Linked DNA regions of Homo sapiens. The protein of the gene in region 1 purifies or fractionates together with the protein of each later gene. This does not show direct contact. Each region holds a gene or a part of one and is shown on either strand. Other genes may lie near its edges. The genes, in order: BTN2A1, SLC25A30, DENND6A and POTEF.

Evidence for each region.
Region 2: the proteins of BTN2A1 (region 1) and SLC25A30 purify together in Homo sapiens (affinity purification with mass spectrometry; 3 studies listed by BioGRID and IntAct, with this or other methods). This does not show direct contact.
Region 3: the proteins of BTN2A1 (region 1) and DENND6A purify together in Homo sapiens (affinity purification with mass spectrometry; 3 studies listed by BioGRID and IntAct, with this or other methods). This does not show direct contact.
Region 4: the proteins of BTN2A1 (region 1) and POTEF purify together in Homo sapiens (affinity purification with mass spectrometry; 3 studies listed by BioGRID and IntAct, with this or other methods). This does not show direct contact.

What each region holds. Positions count from the first base shown.
Region 1 is NC_000006.12:26,452,963-26,460,984, forward strand, and holds the start of BTN2A1 (butyrophilin subfamily 2 member A1 isoform 1 precursor), read left to right. Parts: upstream 1-4,992; 5' UTR 4,993-5,180; intron 5,181-5,644; 5' UTR 5,645-5,674; coding exon 5,675-5,756; intron 5,757-6,518; coding exon 6,519-6,866; intron 6,867-8,022.
Region 2 is NC_000013.11:45,415,364-45,423,252, forward strand, and holds the start of SLC25A30 (kidney mitochondrial carrier protein 1), read right to left. Parts: upstream 3,011-7,889; 5' UTR 2,937-3,010; exon of another isoform or gene 2,799-2,936; intron 1-2,798. UniProt on the Homo sapiens protein: Antiporter that transports inorganic anions (sulfate, sulfite, thiosulfate and phosphate) and, to a lesser extent, a variety of dicarboxylates (e.g. malonate, malate and citramalate) and, even more so, aspartate.
Region 3 is NC_000003.12:57,627,058-57,634,087, reverse strand, and holds part of DENND6A (protein DENND6A), read left to right. Parts: intron 1-733; coding exon 734-823; intron 824-3,109; coding exon 3,110-3,163; intron 3,164-3,263; coding exon 3,264-3,373; intron 3,374-3,564; coding exon 3,565-3,667; intron 3,668-5,202; coding exon 5,203-5,277; intron 5,278-5,742; coding exon 5,743-5,874; 3' UTR 5,875-7,030.
Region 4 is NC_000002.12:130,073,008-130,077,225, reverse strand, and holds the end of POTEF (POTE ankyrin domain family member F), read left to right. Parts: intron 1-24; coding exon 25-145; intron 146-1,653; coding exon 1,654-2,982; 3' UTR 2,983-3,691; downstream 3,692-4,218.

The DNA.
Region 1 (8,022 bases):
TGTCTTGGTTGAGAGAATAACCTCATAGTACCAACATGACATGTGACTTGGAAAGAGACTAGAGGCCACACTTGATAAATCATGGGGCACAGATATGTTCCCACCCAACAAATGTGATAAGTGATTGTGCAGCCAGAGCCAGCCTTCCTTCAATCAAGGTTTCCAGGCAGAGCAAATACCCTAGAGATTCTCTGTGATATAGGAAATTTGGATCAAGGAAGCTAAAAGAATTACAGGGATGTTTTTAATCCCACTATGGACTCAGTCTCCTGGAAATAGGTCTGTCCACTCCTGGTCATTGGTGGATGTTAAACCCATATTCCTTTCAACTGCTGCCTGCTAGGGAAAACTGCTCCTCATTATCATCACTATTATTGCTCACCACTGTATCCCCTCTACTTGGCAAGTGGTTGTCAAGTTCTAGTTGTTCAATAAATGTGTTAATAATGCTTACTCCTCAGCTTGGCTTTTTCTAGACTGTGGTGTCTACTCAGCACAGTAGTCTGCACACCCACTGTACTCACCACAGTCTCAGTTTACCTCACTGCAGCATTTTCACAAGACCCTTATTGGATGCATTTTCTGTTGTTGCCATCTGAATTACCAGAAATGTATAGACATTTTTTTTTTTTTGAGATTGGATTGTGCCACTGTACTCCCAGGCTGGAGTACAGTGGCACGATCTCAGCTCACTGCAACCTCCACCTCCCAGGTTGAAGTGATTCTCCTGCCTCAGCCTTCCGAGTAGCTGGGACTACAGGTGCGTGCCACCACGCCTGGCTAATTTTTTGTGTTTTCAGTGCAGACGAGGTTTCACCATGTTGTCCAGGATGGTCTCGATCTACTGACCTTGTGATCCACCCACCTCGGCCTCCCAAAGTGCTGGGATTACAGGTATGAGCCACCGCGCCTGGCTTCAGAAATTCATGAACTTAAAGCAACACAAATTTATTATCTCACTGTTCTGTAGGTGAGAAGTCAGAAGTCCCACAGGGATCTCACCAGGCTAGAATCAAGGTGTCTGCAGGCTGGATTCCTTTCTGGAGTCTCTAAGGAAGAATCTGTTTCCTTGCTTATTCAGACTATTGGCAGAATCAGTTCCTTTCATTTATAGGACTGACGTCCCAGTTGTTCCCTGGTTTTTAGCTAAGGGCTGTACCCACTTCTAGAGGCTGCCACACTCTGGCTCCTAGCTCCCTTCCTGTATCTTCAAAGCAGCAACAGCGCATTGAGGCTCATCTCCTAGGTCTTTTTCTCCATTGTGTCTCTCTGATTCTTTTACCTTCTCCTTTTTTTCCTTCCTTTCTTTTTTTTTTTTTTTTCTTCTTTGACAAGGACTCGCTCTGTCACCCAGGCTGAAGTGCAGTGGCGTGATCTCAGCTCACCACATTGTCCCCTGGGCTCAAGCAATCCACCCATCTTAGCTTCTCAAGCAGCTGGGAGCACAGAGCCACATCACCATGCCTGGGTATTTTCTTGTAGAGACAGGGTCTTGCCATGTTGCCCAGGCTGGTCTCAAACTCCTGAGCTCAAGCAATCTGCCCACCTTGGTCTCCCAAAGTGCTGGGATTATAGGCATGAGCCACCACGCTCAGTCTGCCTTTTACTTTTAAAGACTCCTATGATTAAACTGAGATCACCCAGACAATTTAGAATAATCTCTCTATTTTAAGGTCCATAACCTTAATTCTGTGTAAAATTCATTTTACTGTGTTATACATTCTTTTCATAACTTTCATAGTGAATATAGCTCAAAGGGTGGGTGCGGGGAGCACTATTCAGCTCACCACACTGATTTGGGAAGTGATTCCAGGAAACACAAGTGCAGAAACAAATTGAGAAATGAAAAAAAGCCAATTACATGACAAATGGGATAAAGGGTTCACTCATGAGTCAGTTACCATGTGGATAACTTGGCTGAATCCCTTTTAGGACTCTCTAAGAAACCATATGAAATGTGTGATATAGCTCAGAATCTTCCTAAGGACTACAGGGCCTGGGACTTTATCTCCACTTCCCATCCTCCTTTGCTTGAATTGGTTGAAGGTTGGCCTGGGAGTGTTAATTCTAATGCACTTTAAGATTGGGCTATGTAACTGCAGAAAAGCAACTATCACGGGTGTGATAAAGCTCACAGGCAAAGGAGAAGGGAGATACTCACTGGAGGTGGAAAGGTTGTCATCCTTGCAGAAAACTGTGCCTCAGCTATTGGCAAACTGTGATAGGCCAAGAGAATATGGGATGGGGCATCAACAGCGTCTGTTATAAGGGCTCTGCCTCTGAGAATATAGTGAATGCCTTTCAAGGTCTCTCTGCCCTCGCTGTACCACATTTAGCATTAGTGACCTCTTCTCTTCCAATACATGCCCACATCACATGGCCCTGCAGCCTCACCACATGGACTGGGTCTGGGATGGACACCTGACCCAGGCTAGGCCAGAGGACCAAGTGACATGTGGCTAGTTACTCCTGTAGCAGATGTGCATGGGAGCTGTGGGAAGAAATGCTCCATTCATGGTGTGGACTAAACAATGGTGGATTGCAGAGAAGACCAAAGCAGATGAGCAGAGAGAAGGCTACAAGATGGAAAGAGTTTAGGCAAATTTCTCACGTTTGGTTCTTTTAGAAGCCCAGTATCATTTCTTCTTTTTGAAAAAATGTGTTCTTTTGAGGCAAGATAAATGTACTCGTTAATATTGCTTGTAGTCCTAATATTCAGAAGCTTATGCAACTATTATAATATGTTCAGTGATTCTGTGAGTCAGGAATCTAGAATTTGAACAGGGCAGAGTAGGAATGGATTTTCTGTATGTCAACATGTCTAGGCCTCCCCTGGGAGTACTCCATAGCTGGAGATGACACAGCTATATTACCTTCACAGACTGTAGTTTATTGTAAAGCAAAAGGAAATCAATGCTTACCCTGTATCCTGGTTCTTCCAGGGTTGGCAGGTCCATAAAGAACCTTGCCAACGTGACCCTTCCTGTCTCTATCCCTCCCACTACAGAGCATGATTGGGTTAGGTTGTTACTATCTAACCGGGCACACCCCAGTAGAGCCTGATTTCTTTCTAAGCTACCCCATCGTCAACTGATCCTCTTCCTTCTCAGAACACACACGTTTCCCTCTAGCTCAGATCAACTTTGGCAGAGGCTGAAGCCTGGCTTAGCTGGATGCTTCTGGCAAAAGGGCTACTTCAAAGCCCTGGGCCTTATTTCTTCAGGTAAAAAAATATAAAGTCAGATCTCATCCTGGCTGGCCATGCTGTTAGACCCTTTCATCCTTCTCTTCTGCCTCTTCTCAACAGCTGCCCAGTCCTGTTTGGAATTCATATACATACAGTTCTAATACTGATGTATTTACCCTCATAAGCCACTCAACCCAGAATCTTATTTGAATTATAATCCAGAAACATCAGGTGACGTGTGAGACTACTGTATGAGAAAGAGACAGTTTAAGGGTCAGTCCAATGGAAAAAAGAGTTCTCAGAGCTTTCTTTAGCTTATTCTCATCAAAGAGCTTTCTCTGCAGAAGGAACCTACTGGTTCCTCCTTTCCAGTCCTAGAAATCCTGACCTAGAGTGGCTTAATCCTGCTAGCACCTCTCTCTCGCACTCTGGTGCCAAATGACTCCAGGAACTGGGCCATGATGTGGTGGGAATGACCTTACCCTGAGCATGTCACTCATGCATTGAACAACAGCTAAGAGCAGAGCTTAGAGCTTAGAGCTGGGCCCTGTAAGGTGAGAGGAATCACATCCTGCAGAAGTCTGTCCTGAGAAGCAGGTACTCCTGTCACAGCAGAGACACAGTGGATACCTGAGTAACAATAATACAAGACAGGACGTGGGAACAGCAAAAGATTTGGGTGTCAGAAGAGGCCGAGAACACTTCAGGCAGGAACATTCAGAGTTGTTCTTGGAGGAAGTAGGCACGAAGGCTGGGCAGGATTTCACGGGGCAGAGATGGAGCAAGCAATTGAAATGAAAGCCATGGCATGGGAAAAGGAGCACTGGCCACAGGGAGTGCAACGTTGTGATGCAAGGCCACTGTGGAGCCATTGCTAGCGTATTAACTGCAAAGTTTTGAATTGAATCAGAAGGGAATTGGAGGCCTCCAGACTAAGCATTTAGACACTTGAGGGGAATATTGACAACTGGGCCTCGGGAAGATTATTCTGGAAGATATCTTTACAATTACAAGATTGGAGCCTTTGGGAGAGGGATGATGTTTACGGGAGGATGGTATGTGTGCTAGTGTGTGTGTCTGTGTGTGGCTCTTGGACCCAACCTGACCACCTACTATCTAGAAGGTGAAGGACAACTAGAAAGTTTTGCTCAATTCCATCTTCTGCCACCACCAGAATGCCACCTCCCTGAGGGAAAAGGTTTTTGATCCTCAGTCAGGATTCTCAGCACCTCTTATCCGATAGCTTTGGAATGAATGGCAAGGCCTTCATAACAGCCACTGCAACTGCTGTCTCCTTTCCTTTGCTACCCCTCCCGCTCCAGCCATGCCAGCTTCCCCCAAGCCCTCCTGCGCTCCAGGCCCAACCTCCAAAGCCAGCAACTTGAACAGGAGTCCTCTGGCTTTGGAAAGGGGGCGGCTTACGTTTTCCTGCTCATGTTTCCTCCCCAGCAAAATTGCCCTCTACATAGAGAGGCCTCTCCTTGTGGACACCAGCAAAGCCACCGACCTCAGTGACAAACCCCAGGGAATCTCCCCAAGGAATCTCAAAGCGAGAGAGAGAGAGAGAGTCTTGAGAGAGAAAGAGAGAGAGAGAGAGTCTTGCTTTCGAACAAAGAAAAAGGAAATAAAAAGACCCGATAATCTCAAAAGGTTATTTGCTGCTTGAAATTTGTGATTCGGTGTATTCTACCCAGCAACTGCTGAGAAATAAGGTTCGACACCATTGGCTGGTTCACTCACACCCGGCCAATCCTGGGCTCTAAAATACTTAGGGAACTCTTGGGACTGTGGAAGCCCAGGAGACCAGATTTCGTTTCCTGCATCTCCAAACATGGCGACCTAGGAGAAGGGGAAGAACAATTTTTTCTCCTCTTTTGGGAAGGTTTGTGTCTAGTAGTGCCTGTGCCCCTGGGCAGATTGGAGAGAAGAGGGACGACTGGAGAATCGTCGAGAACCAGCGGAGAAAAGAAAAAGCAACGTTTAATTCTAGAAGGTAGGAAACGGAGGGGAGGCGCTACAGCTCCGGGGTGGGCACAGTAGGTGGGGGAAGCGGGGTCTGCTGTGGACACGAGACGGGGTCCTGGGACAGGGAAAGCCCACCGGTGGGGAGGCGCGGCCTCGCCTGTCTTTGCCTCAGGCTGCCCGGCCTGGGTCGCGGGGAGGAGGAAGTGAAGGGAGGAGGGTGTGGTAGAATCCAGCGACAACTGAAGAAACTGCATTCTGGCCAGAGAAGTGAGCCGAGGAGGGCGGAAAAAGGCCCCCTTGATCTTGGCATTGATGGCTTACTTCATGGAATGTTTAAGGAATCCCTCTCTCGGGACATACCTGAGCCTTCGGATGCAGGGGACTCCCTGAAGTTGGGGCACTGATGAGACCTACTTGAGTGACGGGAGAGGTTGGGCCCGACCAGCACTGAGGTGCCAAGACTCCTAGGCTGATTCTCCTCTGTAACCCTAGGCCTCCTGTCCCTGCCTGCTCTGGGTGCTCATGGAATCAGCTGCTGCCCTGCACTTCTCCCGGCCAGCCTCCCTCCTCCTCCTCCTCCTCAGCCTGTGTGCACTGGTCTCAGGTAGGGATGTGTGCCACTTGCTGCTGTCACCTATCAGAAAGGAACATCAACCCTGTAGTCTGCAAAGGGAAAGAAAGAAGGACTGTGGAGTTGTTGACTTACCCTTTCATTCTGAACATGTTCATTGAATTTATACCAGCACTGTCCAAAAGGAATACAGTGAGGCACAAAGGCCGAGTGCATGTACAATTGCAAATTTTCAAAAAAAATTAAATTTTACTTTTTATTTTAAAAAGTAAAAAGAAACATGAAATAAATTTGTATACTATATTTTGTTTCGCCCCAAATAATCAAATACGAATATTTAAATACTTAGTTAATATACCATATTACCAATGAGATAGTCAACATTTTGAAATTTTAAATCTTCATAATCCTGTGTGTATTTTACACTTACAGCTCATTTCAGTTGGAACTAGCTAGTGGATATGTGTCCTATTGCACGGCTCAAGTTTACAGTACACTCAGGCACAGCACTAGATTGGGAAATCGAGGAAAATCCCCTCAAGGGCACAGGGTGGACAGAGGGTGCTCAGGGCAGGTTCCTCAGGGTTTCCTTCATGAAGCAGAAGCACACTTTATAGTTACTGCTCCCAGGGGTGCTGTCGACTAGCCACAGCTACTGGTCCCCAGATTTCTCAGCCCAAAGAGACCCTATGGCCATGGAAAAAATAAGTTTGTCCCTAGAATATCTGCTTCCTTTCTTGCCTTAGAGATGTGATGGCTGGTGTCTTTGTCTGACTCTACCCCTTTGTTGAACAGCCCAGTTTATTGTCGTGGGGCCCACTGATCCCATCTTGGCCACGGTTGGAGAAAACACTACGTTACGCTGCCATCTGTCACCCGAGAAAAATGCTGAGGACATGGAGGTGCGGTGGTTCCGGTCTCAGTTCTCCCCCGCAGTGTTTGTGTATAAAGGTGGCAGAGAGAGAACAGAGGAGCAGATGGAGGAGTACCGAGGAAGAACCACCTTTGTGAGCAAAGACATCAGCAGGGGCAGCGTGGCCCTGGTCATACACAACATCACAGCCCAGGAAAACGGCACCTACCGCTGTTACTTCCAAGAAGGCAGGTCCTACGATGAGGCCATCCTGCACCTCGTAGTGGCAGGTGCGTCGCTTCATTTTGCTTTGTTACTTTGGCACAGTGTGACTTTGGGGAAAGTTTCTCTCCTAACCTCAGGCCCATTGCAGACCAGCAAATTTTTGTCTGGACTCCCTTTTCCACTCTCCCTGTGGAAACGGAATTCCAGGGAAAAATCCTTCCTCCTGCACAAGGGACACATGAGTGGGTTTGCCCTGCTAAGCTAAGGGCTTCACTTCTTGAGAAGCACATGCAGAATTCAGCTGAGGCCGTGAGCAGGGGAAAATGGTCAGTCTCGGAAGAGAAGTCTTATACCTGCCTTAGGATTGAACTGTGCACTTCTTTTGGGTTTTTTTTTTCTTTTTGAGACAGAGTCTTGCTCTGTTGTACCCTCGCTGGCACGATCTTGTCTCACTGCAACCTCTGCCTCCCAGGTTGCACTTCTGAGAGTGAGAGGAGACACTGTCAATAATTGTTCCAAGACAACTGGAATAAACTGATTACCCAGAGAACTACAACATATCAAATCTTATTTCTTGATAAATATTAATCTTTACTTCATCTTTCCCAAAATGCTGATTGCAGAGAGAGTGACTTATTGTAAATAGATGGTTTTATTAAACCAAGACGAAATACAGAAGCAAAATTATATATAGTTCCTGCTAACTCCATAGAGAAAGACTACGAATTTTGCTGGGAGGTAATAGGGAAGCCTTCCACATAAAAATGCATTTAAACTGGGATTTCTAGGAATTTGTTAAAATGACATTAAGTGATTACTTCAGTTTTGGGGTTAGTGTATTATGCTTTAAAAGATATATTTGGGCTGGGCGTGGTGGCTCATACCTGTAATACGAGCACTTTGGGAGGCAGAGGCAGGTGGATTACTTGAGGCCAGGAGTTCGAGACCAGCCTGGCCAGCATGGTGCAACCCCATCTCTACTAAAAATACAGAAACATTAGCCAGGCTTTGTGGAGTGTGCCTGTAATCTGAGCTTCTTGGGAGGCTGAGGCACAAGAATTGCTTGAACCCAGGAGGCAGAGGTTGCAGGGAGCCGAGATCTTACCACATCACTCCAGCCTGGGCGACAGAGCAAGACTCTGTATCAAAAATTAAACAACAACAAAAAAGATATATTTGAGGACTGAAAAAGCCTTTAAGGTGCAGGATAATCTGTGGTGG
Region 2 (7,889 bases), on another chromosome or scaffold:
AAATATTGGTGGGGGGCAGGGCAGGGAATTCTATACATTCAGAATAAATATAGAATTTTCCAGCAGAGGAAATAAAAAATTTTATTTTTAAAAATGTTAGCTGTTGGCCGGGTGTGGTGGCTCAAGCCTGTAATCCCAACACTTTGGAAGGTGGAGGAGGGTGGATCACTTGAGGTCAGGAGTTCGAGACCAGCCAGGCCAACATGGTGAAACCCGGTCTCTACTAAAAATACAAAAATTAGCTGGGCATGGTGGCAGATGCCTGTAATCCCAGTTACTCGGGACGCTGAGGCAGGAGAATAGCTTTGAACCCGGGAGGCAGAGGTTGCAGTGAGCCAAGATGGCGCCACTGCACTGTGGCCTGGGTGACAGAGCGAGACTCCATCACAAAAAAAAAAAAAAGAAAGAAAGCTGTTGGTGCCTGGCTGAATAATTTTTTTTTTTTTTTTTTTTTGAGACTGAGTCTCGCTCTTTCACCCAGGCTGGAGTGCGGTGGTGCTATCTCAGCTCACTGCAACCTCTGCCTCCCAGGTTCAAGCAATTCTCCTGCCTCATCCTCCTGAGTAACTGGGATTACAGGCACGTGCCACCACGTCCAGCTAATTTTTGTATTTTTGGTAGAGATGGGGTTTCACCATGTTGGTTAGGCTGGTCTCGAACTCCTGACCTTGTGATCTGCCTGCCTCCGACTCCCAAAGTGCTGGGATTATAGGCATGAACCACGGCGCCCGGTCCAAATTTTTTAAAGTTAAAAACAAAACAGGCCGGGCACGGTGGCTCATGCCTGTAATCCTAGCACTTTGGGAGGCCGAGGCGGGTGGATCACCTGACGTCAGGAGTTCGAGACCAGCCTGGCCAACACGGTGAAATCCTGTCTCTATTAAAAATACAAAAATTAGCCAGGCATAGTGGTGGGCGCCTGTAATTCTAGCTATTCGGGAGGCTGAGGCAAGAGAACTGCCTGAACCTGGGAAGCGGAGGTTGCAGTAAGCTGAGACCGCACCACTGCACCCCGGCCTGGGCAACAAAAGCAAAACTCCATCTCAAATAAATAAATAAATATATAAATAAATACAAAAAAAAGTGAAAAATACAAAGTAAAAAAACAACAACAAAAATGTTAGCTGGGCTAGTCACACATACCTGTAATCCCAGCTACTTGGGAGGCTGAGGCTGGAGAATAGCTTGAGGCCAGGGGTTCAAGACCAGCCTGGGCAACAGAATGAGACGACCACCTATACTAAAAAAATCCAAAACATTATCTAGGTATGGTGGTACGCGACTCTAGTCCCAGCTACTCCGCAGGCTGAGGTGGAAGGGGCACATAAGCCCAGGACTTCAAGGCTGCAGTGAGCTAAGACCATGACACTGCACTCTAGCAGCCTGGGTGACAGAGCAAGACCCTGTCCCAAATAATAAATAAAGGTTAAAAACAAGTTTTCTGAATGAAATTGTCTATACAAATTAAGAATTTCAAAGGATTCTCCCTACACTTAGGATATATGCTAAGTTACACATCCTGTCTACATTTTCTCTTACATGGTTGCTTAGTATTTATTTTCACCCACCTGACCTCATGTGTACAGCTGTAAAGGGAGGTAATTAAATATAATACTAGCTGTTCGTACTTTTGAACGCTTTCCAAGTTTCTCTTATTTATTTATTTAGAGGCGGAGTTTTGTTCTTATTGCCCAGGCTGGAGTACAATAGCATGATCTCGGCTCACTGCAACCTCCGTCTCCTGGATTCAAGCGATTCTCCTGTCTCAACCTCCCGAGTAGCTAGAATTAGACATCCGTCACCACGCCCGGCTAATTTTGTATTTTTAGTAGAGACGGAGTTTCTCCATGTTGGCCAGGCTGGTCTCGAACTCCTGACCTCAGGTGATCCGCCCGCCTCGGCCTCCCAAAGTGCTGGGATTACAGGCCTGAGCCACCGCTCCCAGCCGTTTCTCTTATTTAATTCTTGGTAAGTTCTTTCAGTTTTACTTCCTGTTCCCTTTTTAGTCTTAAGTCTTAAAACTGTAATTGCACAGCCTTTAATGTGCTCTCATACATTTATTGTTCCTTGCTGGACCGACTGCCCTTTCAATAATGCCCTTTCATGAACTTTTCCTATTTCCTATTCTTTTTAAAGGTGCAGAAGGAAAACTAAGCTCATCACAGACTTACAAAAAGCCGGGTTTAAAAGAAATCTTCGAAATTATCATCTCGTTTCACGTTAATTAACTGAGCCCGCGGTCACAAAGCTTCGCAACGGCAAAGCCAAAAGCAAGATTCATGCCTTTCAACTTTCTCACTACCCAAGTAGCACCGCAAGCCGAATCCGCAGGGCAGTGCCAACATTGTTTGCTACTCTTGCGCAGAACAAAAATGCTAATCACTGCAACTGCTTTACATGAAAGTGCACCTAGAAAGACTTCAAAACCCAGAGGTACATTAACTTTCCAGGCAAGTTCCTCCCAGCCTGTGTGCCACGAGCGATTCCGAATGTGGTGTGCCCTCTCCCACAGTGCGAAGCTCGCGGGCGCTCAGGCTGCCGTTTGAATGAACGCACGAGTGGGAGGGACGCACAAGCAGGGTTGCAAGCCCGGGGCTCGTTAGCAGACGCGGAGATGCCAGGACGGGCTTCGCACTCGGATCTGAATGACCCTGGAACAGGAATCACCCCACGCCAACAGCGATGGGGGCCCCGCGGCACCGGCCCGACCCAAGGAGGCAGCAGCCCGAGAAGCAGAGCCCTGTCCCCAGTCCCCGGAACCTCGCGCCCCGCCGAGCCCGGCCCGGCCTGCGAAGTGGAGAGCACAGGCAGCCCCGAGCACGCCCGGTTGCAAAGGAGGCTCCTCGGAAATCGCAGCCCAACCTTACCCCAGGCCCGGGTTCCAGGAGCCGCAGAGAAAGCGGGGCCGGCAGGAGGAGGCACGGGCCAGGACTTACCTGGCGGCAGCGGCCCCACACCTCCTCCAACCCGGACTCAGTTGTAACAAGAACCTGAGGCCGCTGGAGAAAAGGAAAAAATGCCGTCGCGGGCGGGGCAGACCCACGAGCCTGCACGCAGCCCCGCGCCGCCCCGCCCCGTCCGCGCAAACACGCGACCTCCTCAGCTCCCATTGGTTTCTGCCAGCACTAGCCACACCCCTGACAGCCCCAGATGGGGACACGGAGGGGCGGGGCCCGTCCCAAGTGCCCCTCAGGATCTTCCCCTGCCGCTGCCTGAGGGAGCTGCCCGGGACTCGGTGACACCTGATGTGGCCTCCGATATCGACTGGGAGGTGGAAGAGAAATTTGGGGAACGCATCGAGAACCGTGGAAAAGCAACCTTCGCAGGGGGCAACCTTCTCACGGTGCCCCCGTGAACCTTCACAGTTGGATGGAAGTAAACTTGCCCTTATTTTTTTATACCCCAGCTTTTAGCTTGAAAATATACAGATTAGCCGGGCATAGCGGCGGGCGCTATAATCCCAGCTACTTGGGTGGCTGAGGCAGAAGAATCGCTTGAACCTGGGAGGCGGAGATTGCAGTGAGCAGAGAGCGTACCACTGCACTCCAGCCTGGGCAACAAAGCGAGACTTCGTCTCAAAAAAAAAAAAAAAAAAAAAAAAAAAAAAAAAAAAAAAAAAAAGCCAGACCTGGTGGCGGGTGCCTGTAATCCCAGCCACTCGGGAGGCTGAAACAGGAGAATCGCTTGAACCCGGGAGGCGGAGGTTGCAGTGAGCCAAGATCGCGCCACTGCACTCCAGCCTGGGCGACAAAGTGATACTCCCTCTTAAAAAAAAAAAAAAAAAAAAAGAAAGAAAATGTCCAAACAGAACAAAAAATTAAAAGAACCGTACTATGAGTAGAAATCTTTACATATATATCTAATATACATATATGTAAATATTTATTTATATATTAATATATAACATTTTTAACGGTATGGCAGTGTTTGTGTTCAAGCATACCCAGGTATATTTTTGTTTTGTTTTGTTTTTAGACAGAGCCTCACTCTTGTTGCCCAGGCTGGAGTGCAATGGCACCATCTCAGCTCACTGCAACCTCCGCCTCCCAGGTTCAAGTGATTCTGCTGCCTCAGCCTCCCGAGTAGCTGGGATTACAGGTGCCCATCACCACGTCCGGCTAATTGTTGTATTTTTAGTAGAGATGGGGTTTCTCCATATTGGTGAGGCTGGTCTCGAACTCCCGACCTCAGGTGATCCGCCTGCCTCGGCCTCCCAAAGTGCTGCCATTACAGGTGTGAGCCACGGCACCCGGCTGTGAACTCATGATTTAAACATATAACTGGGGCCGGGCTCAGTGGCTTATGCCTGTAATCCCAGCATTTTGGGAGGCCGAGACGGGCAGATCACCTGAGGTCGGGAGTTCGAGACCAGCCTGACCAATATGGAGAAAACCCATCTCTACTAAAAGTACAAAAATTAGCCGGACGTGGTGATGGACACCTGTAATCCCAGCTACTCGGGAGGCTGAGGCAGGAAAATCAGTTGAAGCTGGGAGGTGGAGGTTGAGGTGAGCCGAGATCACGCCGCTGCACTCTAGCTGCTGCACTCTAGCTGCTGCACTCTAGCCTGGGTGACAGCGCGAGAGAAAGAAAAGGAAAGGAAAGGGAGGGGAGGCGAAGGGAAGGGGAAGGGGAAGAAAGGAAAGGGGAAAGGAGAAAGAGGGAGGAAGGAAGGGAGGAAGGAAAATGCATATGTATAAAACTTGCATCTGTTGATGCAAAGTGCTACTCCAGGAATCTTTACATCCCTTGGTTCATTCAAGACAAAGAAATGTTATTTCCATTTTACAGATGACAGAACAGAGGTTTCATGAGATAACTGCCCTGTTACAGAACCAGGGCCCAGGGCCATCTCTCTCTCATTTCCTTCTCTTGTGTCTCCAGCTCAGGCCCCAGGTTGAGCTTAAACAATCTCTTTTCTGTGCTCCAACTTGGACTCTAGGTGAGTACCTGGATTTTTGGCCACACAATGTTTTGAAATCAATAAAATTTGGACCCCTTTGAAGTATCCCCTGAATTCTGGCCATAAAAACAAATACAATCCCCAGCCTGTGGGGGAAAGTCATTGGAATGCTTGCCTTTCTAGGGCAGGGAAATAAGTACATGACCCTTTCTACCTCTCTCTCACCTCACCAAGTCCTTTCCAGACTCATGACTGTGTGGTACTACATACAAAGCACTGGATTCCTCCCTTTCCTGTAGAGCTTTTGGACACCCAAACTCTACCATTACCCTAAGCCCCACCAGCCCATGCTAATACTCAGATAATACTTAGAAATACACAGGAATGGCCAGCCTTCAAGTATGAAGATCCCTTTGTGGGTTTTTTTGTGCTTTTGTTTTGTTTTGTTTTTCAAGACAGGGTCTCGCTCTGTCACCCAGGCTGGAGTGCAGTGGCCCAGTCACAGCTCACTGCAGCCTCGAACTCCTATACTCAAGCAATCCTCCTGCCTCGGCCTCCCAAAGTGCTGGGAGTACAGGCATGAGCCACCATGCCTGGCCAAAGATCTTTTTGAAAGAAAACTGAATTTTTTAAAAATTTTGAGTCCCTATAAAATAGATGGTAGTATTTTCAGTGTCCATTATGAAAATGCATATGGAATTTGTGGGGCCCCTGCAGTAACCTTGGGTTCCTCCAAGGGTCTTGGCCCAGGGATTGGAAACTATTTCTCTAGGGAATAGTAACTTGGTTGCAGCAGCATAACCAGTTTAGAAACAAGAATAACAAAAAAAGGCCAGGCGTGGTGGCTCACGTCTATAATCCCAATACTTTGGGAGGCCGAAGCAGGTGGATCACCTGAGGTCAGGAGTACAAGACTAGCCTGGCCAACATGGCGAAACTCCATCTCCACTAAAAACACAAAAATTAGCCGGGCATGGTGCTGCCTGCCTATAGTTCCAGCTGCTTGGGAGGCTAAGGCAGGAGAATTGCTGGAACCTGGGAAGCAGAGGTTGCAGTGAGTTGAGATCGTGCTACTGCACTCCAGCCTGGGCAACAGAGCAAGACTCCATCTCCAAAAAAAAAAAAAAAAAAAAAGAATTAAAAAAAAGTGGTAAGTCCAGAAATATATCTACGAACTATTCAGTGCCAGTCCCTGTTGGAAGCAACTTCTTTTTCATCTATTCTTTGCCTTCAACTTTCCCCCTATTTGGCTCTTTGTGCATGTTTTTTATCTGACTACAGTTAACACACCCAGGTAGCAATATGGAAATGAAGACCTAGGTTCTACTCAATCCTGGCCACAGCTTTATTAGCTCTCTGGCCTTGAGTTAATTAAAGTCCTCAGTTGCAAAATGGAAACAATACCCTCCCTACAGAATGTTAAATGAGGCGACGTGTGCAAAAACATACTTTGTAAAATGTAAGTGCTGTAGAAATATCTTTGAATTCATCTGGCCATGGCACTCACCAGCTTAAAATTCTTCATTGGCTCCCCAGTGTCCTCAAGATTAAGGCCCCTGACCACGTGGTCCTTAGAGCCCTCCAGCCATAAGAATCCAGTTCCCTATCCTCCTCACCCATGCACTTGCCCCTCAATCCTACATTCTAAAGTCTGGCCATATAGGCACTTCTCAAGTAGCTGGGCTTTTATTGCCATTTAGGCCTTTTATTAGCAAACTGTTAGAACAGTAACATCCACACAGCCAAAAGCCCTCACTACACTCCCTTAGGTGGATGATGCCAATCTCTATGAGGAGCTGGGCAGCAGGAACCATTTTTTACCCACATCATGGTTTTCATCATCTTGGCAATTGTGTGTGCACTATATAGTGGCAATAAATAACAAATGCTTTGGAATCAACTACAATTTGATAAATGTTTGTTTAATTACATTAAACTACAGGAATGATGCAGATAATATGGACCTGCGTCTTGTCAAGAATGAGTCTCACAGGTTTTTCTGGATGGTTGGTGCTTGCAGAATGAAAGGGCTTAGTCAGACCTTTTAGGGGTAACATTTGGTGGTTGGCGAAAGGAGGAGGTTGTATCTGACTGAGACATCTGGTCACCTCCTCTCCTTGGCAAAATGCAGAAGCAATGAGCCATTGCTACTCCTAAGAAGAACACCTGGATAGGCCAGTGTTCCTAGCTGGTGTACTGGGAATGAGCCCATAAAATTCTTTATCATTATATTTTATTGCAGCGGTTCTCAATCTGAATCAGATTTTGCCCTCCAGGAGAAATTCACAATGTCTGGAGTTTTTCGGTTGCCTCAACTAGATGCTTGCTACTGGCAAGTTGGTAGGGACCTAGGTTGCTGCTAAACGTTCAACAATGCCCAGGAAGGTGGCAATAGTACTGAAGTTTTAGAAATCCTGTTTTATAGGAATGTTGCTTTGGGCATTTGTTTTTCTTGGTTACAGGTGCTTTGTTGAGAATGCATCTTTTGTGTAAGTCACTGAATGGCTGTATAAAATACTCACAGCTCCCCAAACACAGGGATACTCCCTTTTACCTCTGCAACTTGGCACACACTGCATTGCACCTGCTGAGTTATTTCTCTTGCTAAGCCCTTCTCATCCATCAGGCCTCAGTTTGGACACCATGTCCTCCAGGAAGTCTCTCCTAATCACTAAAAACTGGGTGAAATGGGTGCCTGCCCTCTTTGTGCATCCATGCTGCTATGAGAACAGTTACCGCACTTCAAAAGAATGAGCAGTTTTCTCGACAGTCTTCCCATGAAACAGTAAGCTCGTTGGGGTAGGGACCCAGTCTTGCTCACTACTGTATTCTTAGTGCTCAGCATAGCACCTGGCACTGTGGGTCCCCAATAAATATAAGCACATTTGGAGAGTCTCTATAATTTGAGAGTTGGCAGGAAGACAGAGGTCAGGATGGAGGCTTTGTCAAATTGTCTGTCCCTTCCCATTGATATTACCACAGTTGT
Region 3 (7,030 bases), on another chromosome or scaffold:
CATGAATTTGGGGCTGTAGCTACACATGAGTGTCAGTCTTTCTAGAAACTTGGAAATTATAGTGAAAAAGCCATAGATTCTACCATGATAGCATCTAACAGTAGGGGACTGTTACCATTTTTTTTAATGTAAATAGTATAGTATAGCAAATATAAAATAAAGATTGTCTTTATAGTGAACTCACTTTTTTTTTTTTGAGATGGAGTTTCGCTCTTGTTGCCCAGGCTGGAGTGCAATAGCACAATCTCGGCTCACTGCAGCCTCCACCTCCCCAGGTTCAAGCAATTCTTCTGTCTCAGCCTTCCAAGTAGCTGGGATTACAGGTGCCCGCCACCACACCCAGCTAATTTTTGTATTTTTTAGTAGAGACGGGGTTTCACCATGATGGCCAGGCTGGTCCTGAGCCCCTGACCTCAGGTAATCCACCCACCTCACCTTCCCAAAGTGTTGGGATTACAGACGTGAGCCACGGTGCCCAGCCGTGAACTCACATTTTCACAGTATGGGATGAACAGTATTCCCTAAGCTAAGAACTCTTATGTTTTGCTCCGGTAAAGATTATTTTCACAGGATATTGCACAATGAACTTCACATTAAATTACTTCAAGGTGAAGTTCTAGTTTTTTAAATATCAAGTATAAATGTATATTTACATAGCAATTGAATCTGATAGTTATCCATTGTTTTATATTCCAACACTAGAATACAGATTCTCATTATTTCCTCTTTTAAGGGTGTACAACAGAAACGTCCTTCTGAGGCTCAAAGTGTTATTCTTCGACGCTATTTTTTGGAACTGACACAAAGTTTCATCATTCCATTAGTAAGTTAATAAATAAATTTTTGCATAATTTAATGATTTGGTGAAGGGTATATAAATGTTTTTCCCGCCCTCCAAAACCATATCTTAAGTTGTGTGTTTTGCCAGCCTGGTATATTTAGTGATTAAAAATAAACCCCTTTGCAAGAGACCTGGATTATCTGTTCTAGTGTTAACTGTTCAACTTTGGTAAGTCACTCCCTCTCTCTGACCCTCAATTTTCTCACCTGTGAAATATGGCTGATTCCACTTTCCTAAGTACCTTTTCAAGACTGTTGTGAATCTTAAATGATATACTTTATATGAAATGTTATGTAGTTACTACATTTTTCACCTTAAAAGAAGATTATAGTAGAGCTTCTTTCTGATACTTATCTTGAATACAATTTGATATAATGTCTATGAGGCTGTAGCTCTATGATAACAGGGACTATATCTGTCTTGCTTGTTATTAATTCGTCAGACTGGCATATGGTAGCACTCAAATATTTATGGAATAAATGACTAGACAATGTGGTTATTGTAAGAAATTCAGAAGGATGTCATATTAAAGTATAGGGAGTACCATGATGTGGCCCTGCTCTGGAAACTGCATCATAGAGAAACTTTTTGCAGTTATTAATATAAAGTAATATATCTATGAACATTATATAGGGCATCCTGGAGATCTTTGCTGTTATATTTTAGAAAGAAATATTATTTCTTGGTCTTTGGGTGTCAAGTTATTTATTCCATTAAATCTATTTGTTTGAATAAATAAACTTTACTGTAGTGCTTATGAGCATGGACTAGGCTGGGCACAGTGGCTCAGGCCTGCCACTTTGGGAGGCGAAGGTAAGAGGATTGCTTAAGGCCAGGACTTTGAGACTACAGTAGGCTGTGATTGCACGACTGCACTCCATCCTGGGCAACAGCAAGACTCTCTTAAAAAAAAAAAGAGCATGGACTGGGCGTGGTGGCTCACGTCTGTAATCCCAGCACTTTTGGAGACTGAGGCGGGCAGATCACGAGGTCAGGAGATCGAGACCATCCTGGCTAACACGGTGAAACCCCGTCTCGTCTCTACTAAAAATACAAAAAATTGGCCAGGCATGGTGGCACGCACCTGTAGTCCCAGCTGCTCTAGAGGCTGAGGCAGGAGAATCACTTGAACCCGGGAGGCGGAGGTTGCAGTGAGCTGAGATCGCGCCACTGCACTCAGCCTGGGCGAAAGAGTGAGACTCCGTCTCAAAAAAAAAAAAAAAAAGGCCGGGCGCGGTGGCTCACGCCTGTAATCCCAGCACTTTGGGAGGCCGAGGCGGGCGGATCACGAGGTCAGGAGATCAAGACCATCCTGGCTAACACGGTGAAACCCCGTCTCTACTAAAAATACAAAAAATTAGCCGGGCGTGGTGGTGGGCGCCTGTAATCCCAGCTACTCGGGAGGCTGAGGCAGGAGAATGGCATGAACCCAAGAGGCAGAGCTTGCAGTGAGCCGGGATAGCGCCACTGCAGTCCAGCTTGGGCGAAAGAGTGAGACTCCGTCTCAAAAAAAAAAAAAAAAAAAAAAAAGAGAGCAGAGACCAAAGTCAAGTAGACCTCATTTCAAGTCTAAATTGTATTACCTTGGTCAGGTTATTTAGCCTTTTGAAGAAGCCTCAGTTTCCTAATAATACCTACCACATAGGATCATTCCAAGGATTACAAGAGATCATGCATGTAAAATGTTGAGTGCATTATCTGGCCTATAGTTGCTCAGTAAGGTTAACTATTATCGTTAAAAAATGGACCGCGTTGTTGGGCGCGGTAGTTCACGCCTGTAATCCCAGCACTTTGGGAGGCTGAGGCAGGTGGATCATGAGGTCAGGAGTTCGAGACCAGCCTGACCAACATGGTAAAACCCCATCTCTACTAAAAATACAAAATTAGCCAGGCGTGGTGGCGCACGCCTGTAATCCCAGCTGCTTGGGAGACTGAGGCGGGAGAATCGCTTGAACCCGGGGGGCAGAGGTTGTAGTGAGCCGAGATCATGCCATTGCACTCCAGCCTGCGCAACAGAACAAGGCTCTGTCTCAAAAAAGAAAAAATGTAGTCCCCTTGGTTTATCTAAGATTTAGTTGAATTTTTATTTGAAATCTGACTTCCCAAGTCAGTCTAAATTTAGCTATATCTCTTGTGGGGAGTGATGGAGTTGTTGCTGTCCATTGAAAGGGCATATGATTAAAAACTTAAAAGACCCATTCCTTTTAAGTAGGTCTGTTTAAATATTTTTGAAGACACTCCTTTTATTAACTTTTTTCTTGGTTTTAGGAAAGATATGTGGCAAGCTTGATGCCTTTGCAGAAAAGTATTTCCCCATGGAAGGTATGAATATATTCAAATCTATTTGGGTCCTCTAACTGTAATTAACTTCTGTGAACATATCCACTCCTAATTTCTAAATATTATATGTCCTGTTTTCTAGAGTCCACCTCAATTAAGACAGTTTCTTCCAGAAGAATTTATGAAAACACTTGAGAAAACAGGACCTCAGCTAACCTCTAGAATAAAAGGCGATTGGATTGGACTTTACCGGTTAGTCTTTTTTCCCTGTTTTACACCCATGTGTCGTGCTTTATTTAAAAGCAAAACAAAAAGCTAAACTTAAGCTTATTCTTTTTAAAAAATTCTACTAAAGTTTGACATGGTTCTCTGACTAGGAAAGGTATTGAGGAAAGGAAATAAGTTATAATCAAACTTTACTTTTTTAAAATGTATTTTTATAGGCATTTCCTAAAGTCTCCAAATTTTGATGGCTGGTTTAAGACCCGGAGGAAGGAAATGACCCAAAAATTGGAGGCACTCCATCTAGAAGCTCTTTGTGAAGAGGTTCGAAAACTGTGTGTTTGTGTAATGATTAACAACTGTTGAAAATAAAGATAATTATGCTTAGAAGTTGAAGATTGTACCCTTTATCCACTCTTTATAAATAGTAATGATGACTAACTTTTCTAGATCATGTGCTATGTGCCAAGGACATTATAGGGGCTTTATATAGATAATCTCTTTTAATCTTTACAATGATTCTTTGAGGTAGGTGTGTTATGAACTGCATCATGGGAAACTTTTGGCTTAGAAGTTAAATGACTTGCCTCAGATCACATCCCTGCTAAGTAGTGGAGCCAACAGTGTGCTGGAGTCCACTTGCATTGGCTCACAAGAGCCAAATGTGCACATCTCTTCTCAGCTCTGTATTCAGTAACCTCAGGTTGGCAGCTTGAAATAGCCTACAGTGGGAGTACTACACCACAGAAATTGGCAAATGCTACAAACCAGAGACCTCTTTTGGAGAACCACTTGTTAAATATTTACCAGCACATTACTGGGTAGAGTAAGGATTCTAATCCAAGAAGCCTAACTCCACATCTTTTTCTGTATGATGTATTTACCTTTTTTAGTTAGTATTAACACTTTTAGAAATGTGGACTGGCCGGGTGCAGTGGCTCACGCCTGTAATCCCAGCACTTTGGGAGGCTGAGGTGGGTGGATCACGAGGTCAGGAGATGGAGACCATCCTGGCTAACACGGTGAAACCCCATCTCTACTGAAAATACAAAAAAAAAAAAAAAAATTAGCCGGGCGTGGTGGCAGGCGCCTGTAGTCCCAGCTACTCGGGAGGCTGAGGCAGGAGAATGGCGTGAACCCGGGAGGCGGAGCTTGCAGTGAGCTGAGATCGCGCCACTGTGCTCCAGCCTGGGCGACAGAGCGAGACTCCGTCTCAAAAAAAAAAAAAAAAAAAAAAGCGGACTGATTTTTTTTTTATGTTCTGTATTACCAGCCTATTTTAAATTAAACTACTTGTGAAAATAAAAGGAATAGTCTCACTTTCATTTATATTTAGCTTTAAATGTGAGGTGTGCTAACCTCAGTGTTAACTTTCTACTCATAAACTCCCAGTCACTGTGGCTTTGAGAAAAGGAATATGATGAATGCACCTGCAACATAAGCCCAGGAAGAGCATATCCGAAAACACGAAGTGTACATCCAGTAGTAAATTCATGTTCAGTTCTCTTGATTTGTTAACTAATGTTCCTTATAAATTAGTCACTACTTAGTGGAAGTGGGGGTTACTGTTACAGTTTGAGCTGCAATTTTGTTTTTCTTGCTTGATCTAAAAAAGCCACCTCAGTACATTTTGTTTTACTTCCAAATATGAGACAATTATTCTGGCTAATGCAGAAAATTATCTAACAGTTATTAGAATATTATGAGAATTATTCTTGCACTATAATGCTATATCTGGGTTAAATACTTTGTTCTCCTTTTCCTTCTTGTCTTTCCTTCACAGTAGCCTTACCTATTGAAATAGAGAGGTTTGAATATTATTTTGAGAACTTACTGATTTGGGACTTTATTTATTCTAGGACTTACTTCTCTGGATCCAGAAACACACAGAAGTAGAAACAGTAGACCTTGTCTTGAAGCTGAAAAATAAGCTGGTATGTAGCCAAAACAGCCAAAGATTAAATTGACTTTTCTTTGAAGACATTGTCCTCTCATGTGAGCTGACAACCCATGATAGTTCGCAGAAGTAACTTTTTAAATGAGAGGGCTTGAAATTGGTCAATTGATGGTAGATACTGCTGAAAATACTTGGTCACTGAAACAGACCATAATGATGCCATATTATTCTAACGTTATGTATATAGAATCTAATAAGCTCTATAAAAACATTGTCACTTATATTTCTAGGTATTATTATGAATTTACATAGAAGCCTTTTATTGAGCTCAATAACGAATTGTTTAAATAGAATGCTCCTTGCTTTTTTAGTTTCTGTAATTTCTGGTCTAAGACTGAAAGTATCTAATTGTTAGACCTTTAAAATGGTTTATTTAGAGAATGTAATGTATTAATACAGATTCTGAGGATAATTTAAATGTTATGAAATGTTCCTTATGTAGTTGCAGGCTGATCGAGAGCACTTACCTGTGAAACCTGACACTATGGAAAAGTTACGGACACACATAGATGCCATTATCTTAGCATTGCCAGAGGACTTGCAAGGCATACTGCTCAAAACGGGCATGACATGATATTTGCCAAGATTTTCCAGCCAAAAAGGATTATGCATCATGAAGCATACTGACATTTCAACCAGACGCACAAAGGAGATCTCTCAGTGGCAGCGGAGTGGAAAATTGCCATGAATGCTAGTTACAGGGTAGAAAGACTGTATTGTATAAACAGACCTTTTTAGTGCATTACTTTTTAAAGTGGATATCTGTGGTGGTTCCACTTTAATACTGAAACACCGAAAGGCATTTCTATATTTTTAATCATGTTCTAAAGTGCTCTTATGAGAGACTTGTGGGCCATCAGTATTAGTGATTTCATACTGCAGTGCTGGCATTGCAGATATTTTTTTAAATTGGTGCTGCTTTGCCCAATCATGTTAAAACTCAGGGGGATATAAAAATAACATTCACACTGGCTATCTTCTTAAGAACAGAAAGACTGAACTGTCCTATGGTTAGAAGGAATTGATGCTTATGTAGTGCCTTCTGTTGTCCTACATGTTTCACAGTTCAGCTGCTAGTCTTGAAGCTTTTCCTTAGCTTCATTATGATACGTAATTTTATAAGGTATTCTGTTGAGTGATCATTGTTTAAAAAAAAAGTTTCTTGCTACCCATTGTGTTTATTAATAGACATGATGGGTTTTTTTCAGTTGTCATATAGATTTTCATTATTTTCCCTTCCATTTTCAAAATTTAATGTTACCAGTTTCTCCAAAGACAAGAAGGCATCTAGTATTAATGATGGAAGAGTTTATTTTCTCTTACCCTTTACTAATTTAAACATTAGGCTGGGTGTGGTGGCTCACGCCTGTAATCCTAGCACTTTGGGAGGCCAAGGTGGACAGGTCACTTAAGGTCGAGAGTCCAAGACCAGCCTGGCCAACATGGTGAAACCCCGTCTCTAGTAAAAATACAAAAATTAGCCAGGCATGGTGGCACGCGCCTGTAATCCCAGCTACTTGGGAGGCTGAGATGTGAGAATCACTTGAACCTGGGAGGCGGAGGTTGCAGTGAGCTGAGATTACACCCCTGGACTCCAGCTTGGGTGACACAGTGAGACTGTGTCTCAACAAAAATAAAAAATTAAATAAATACTAATTTAAATATTATTAAATGTTTAAACTAATGAACTTGGCTGCTTTTCAAAGACATTTTAATTATAAATCTCATAA
Region 4 (4,218 bases), on another chromosome or scaffold:
CATGAAAATTAAAATTTCTTCTAGTGACGAACAAAATGATACTCAGAAGCAATTTTGTGAAGAACAGAACACTGGAATATTACACGATGAGATTCTGATTCATGAAGAAAAGCAGATAGAAGTGGTTGAAAAAATGAATTCTGAGGTATTTTCTTTAGTTATTTTCAAATGTTTTTATATGTGTGTATATTTTAAAGAACTGTATTTTGGAAATATAAAGGATTTTTAAGTCATATATATGTGTGTATATATTCTATATATCCTTTGTCATATATCTATATACGTACGTATAGGATAAAGCCATGTTCTTAATTCACCTTCATTTGCCTGCAACAGTTGAGTAGTGACCTGCACAATGGCCTCAATCCAAAGGAGAAGTATTTGATATTTTTCATAAGAATTGATGATCTTTCCACATCAGAAATAAGTTTTGCTACTGAAAACAGATTTTCTCGTTTTTGGACATTAGTTTTTTAAAAAATGTTAATAGAGAAGTCAATTGATTATTTTTACTGATAAGAAAGTAGGAAATGTATAGCTGGGTCAGAGGCCACATTGTGGATACCATTATCCTTACTTTTGCAGAGAGGAACAGTTTGCTCCAAGTAGTTTCTCATTTCAATGTAAAGAGGTTTGAAAAGAATGACATGCCATGATACACATTTAGTAATAATTTATTGATAAGTATTTTCTTTCTGGAGAAATAGTTCAGTATATTTCCCCTATTTCACCATTACTACTGTTTCAAACATTATAAAGAGGAAATAAAAGTTACCGCAATGGCAAATAATCTCATGATTTCTAAGAAAATCTCTATAAGTTGTATCTTATTTACCATTCATATTTTGAAACAAAAGGTTTCTTTTGTATTTATATATTTACACCACAGAAGTAAGTGTGGTTTTGTGGAGGATCACTAGAAGTAGCATCAGCAGACCTGGGGAAAATCCTGCATCTGTGTATATTTTTTGACCTCTCCTTTTAAGAATCGCGATCTTAAATGAGTTCAGTATTATATGTAGAAGAGCAATGCCTAGATACAGATGTGTACAGTGTAGAAGGGTACAGTGCTTATTTGACAGTTATAAATAAATGTAATTCTTATAACTGAGTATAGAAATATTAGAAATGTAGAATATCGGTAAAACGTTCTTAAGTAAAAGAAACTTAAAGAACTTTGAGAAATTGCTTCTGTCCAAATATATGCATAGCTAAGGCTCTTAGGATGGTGTGGTTGATAGGTTAGATATCAGAGTGTAAACCTAATCTTAAAAATGTAGTCAAATTATTAATCTTATATTTTATGCCTCTGGGTTTTTTGTAACTCAGAAAAAAGGCTTTTTTTAATTCTGGGATTCTTAAAAATCCTCTAGTGATTTATTTTTCATCGTCTTTAAATAAATATTTAAACTTTTAGGAATTTAGGAGCAGATTCCTAAAAGTTTAAATATTTATTTAAAGACGATGAAAAATAAATCACTGGAGGAATTTACACTCTTATTAGGTTTGAAGTTTTGTCCAATTTTTTTCCAGTTAAATATCCACTATGGGGATTCTTTCATTATACAAATACATGTTATTTTTGAATTTCAGAAGAAATCATGATATGTCAATCTATTGAGTGCTAACTAAAAGTTCTCTTTGTTTACTTAGCTTTCTCTTAGTTGTAAGAAAGAAAAAGACATCTTGCATGAAAATAGTACGTTGCGGGAAGAAATTGCCATGCTAAGACTGGAGCTAGACACAATGAAACATCAGAGCCAGCTAAGAGAAAAGAAATATTTGGAGGATATTGAAAGTGTGAAAAAAAGGAATGATAATCTTTTAAAGGCTCTACAATTGAATGAGCTCACCATGGATGATGATACCGCTGTGCTCGTCATTGACAACGGCTCTGGCATGTGCAAGGCCGGCTTTGCGGGCGACGATGCCCCCCGGGCTGTCTTCCCTTCCATCGTGGGGCGCCCCAGGCAGCAGGGCATGATGGGGGGCATGCATCAGAAAGAGTCCTATGTGGGCAAGGAGGCCCAGAGCAAAAGAGGCATCCTGACCCTGAAGTACCCCATGGAACACGGCATCATCACCAACTGGGATGACATGGAGAAGATCTGGCACCACACCTTCTACAACGAGCTGCGTGTGGCTCCCGAGGAGCACCCCGTCCTGCTGACCGAGGCCACCCTGAACCCTAAGGCCAACCGCGAGAAGATGACCCAGATCATGTTTGAGACCTTCAACACCCCAGCCATGTACGTGGCCATCCAGGCTGTGCTGTCCCTGTACACCTCTGGCCGTACTACTGGCATCGTGATGGACTCTGGTGACGGGGTCACCCACACTGTGCCCATCTATGAGGGGAATGCCCTCCCCCATGCCACCCTGCGCCTAGACCTGGCTGGGCGGGAACTGCCTGACTACCTCATGAAGATCCTCACCGAGCATGGCTATAGGTTCACCACCATGGCCGAGCGGGAAATCGTGCGTGACATCAAAGAGAAGCTGTGCTATGTTGCCCTGGACTTCGAGCAGGAGATGGCCACGGTGGCCTCCAGCTCCTCCCTAGAGAAGAGCTACGAGCTGCCCGATGGCCAGGTCATCACCATCGGCAACGAGCGGTTCCGCTGCCCCGAGGCGCTCTTCCAGCCTTGCTTCCTGGGCATGGAATCCTGTGGCATCCATGAAACTACCTTCAACTCCATCATGAAGTCTGATGTGGACATCCGCAAAGACCTGTACACCAACACAGTGCTGTCTGGCGGCACCACCATGTACCCTGGCATGGCCCACAGAATGCAGAAGGAGATCGCTGCCCTGGCGCCTAGCATGATGAAGATCAGGATCATTGCTCCTCCCAAGCGCAAGTACTCCGTGTGGGTCGGTGGCTCCATCCTGGCCTCGCTGTCCACCTTCCAGCAGATGTGGATCAGCAAGCAGGAGTATGATGAGTCAGGCCCCTCCATTGTCCACCGCAAATGCTTGTAGGTGGACTCTGACTTAGTTGCGTTACACCCTTTCTTGACAAAACCAAACTTCTCAGAAAACAACATGAGATTGGCATGGCTTTATTTGTTTTCTTGTTTCATTTTTTGTTTTGTTTTTTATTGGCTTGACTCAGGATTTAAAAACCGGAATGGTGAAGGTGACAGCAGTCGGTTGGAGGAAGCTTCCTCCAAAGTTCTACAATGTGGCCAAGGACTTTGATTGTACCTTGTTCTTCTTTTCAATAGTCATTCCAAATATTGTGAGACGCATTGTTTCAGGAAGCCCCTTGCCCTGCTAAAAGCCACCCCACTTCTCTCTAAGGAGAATGGCCCAGTCCTCTCCCTAGTTCACACAGGGGAGGTGATAGCATTGCTTTTGTGCAAATTACATAATGCAAAATTTTTTGAATCTTCGCCTTAATACTTTTTAATTTTGTTTTATTTTGAATGATCAGCCTTCGTGGCCCCCCTCTTTTGTACCCCAACTTGGGGTGTATGAAGGCTTTTGGTCTCCCTGAGAGTGGCTGGAGGCAGCCAGGGCTTACCTGTACTCTGACTTGAGGAGAGTTGGATAAAAGTGCACACCTTAAAACAAATTGAGGAAGCACAGTATTTCAGTACAGTGGACAGCTTAGCATGTTGACAACTGAGAATAAAATGCTCAGTTCTGAACTGGACAATGTAAGACACAACGAGGAAACACTGGAAATGGAAATTCAATTACGTCATTGTAGACTGGCTGCTGCTCTACATGATTGTGACCAAAGTCAGATAGCTGAAAGAGACTTCTTTCCAGAGAACAAGACATGAACAGGTTTATTTACAGAAGACAATGAATTCTCATTTATCTCACCTAAAAGAGAACAGATTCTTTCTCAACAAGTCTAATGAAGACAGTAAAATCAACAGGCTAAAAATTAAGCTCCACGAAACAAGATAAAACTCTGAGAGAAAAGACGGGGCAGGCCGCCATCTTTCCCGTTCAGGCAACGTAGTCATTCCAGCCTGCGGGCTTTGGAGAGTACAAACCGACGAGGGACAGAAGAGATCCCACAGCACAGCATAGCTGCTTTACCAAATCATGGCCAGACTGCTTCTGTAAGCAGGCCCCTGATCCTGTTCCACCTCACTGGACAGGACCTCCCAACTGGGGCCTCCAGCTACCCCCACCAGCATTCCTTGGCCAATGGAAATGTGAAATGTTCCTGGGACAGAGCTCCCGGAGAGGGGCAGGCCC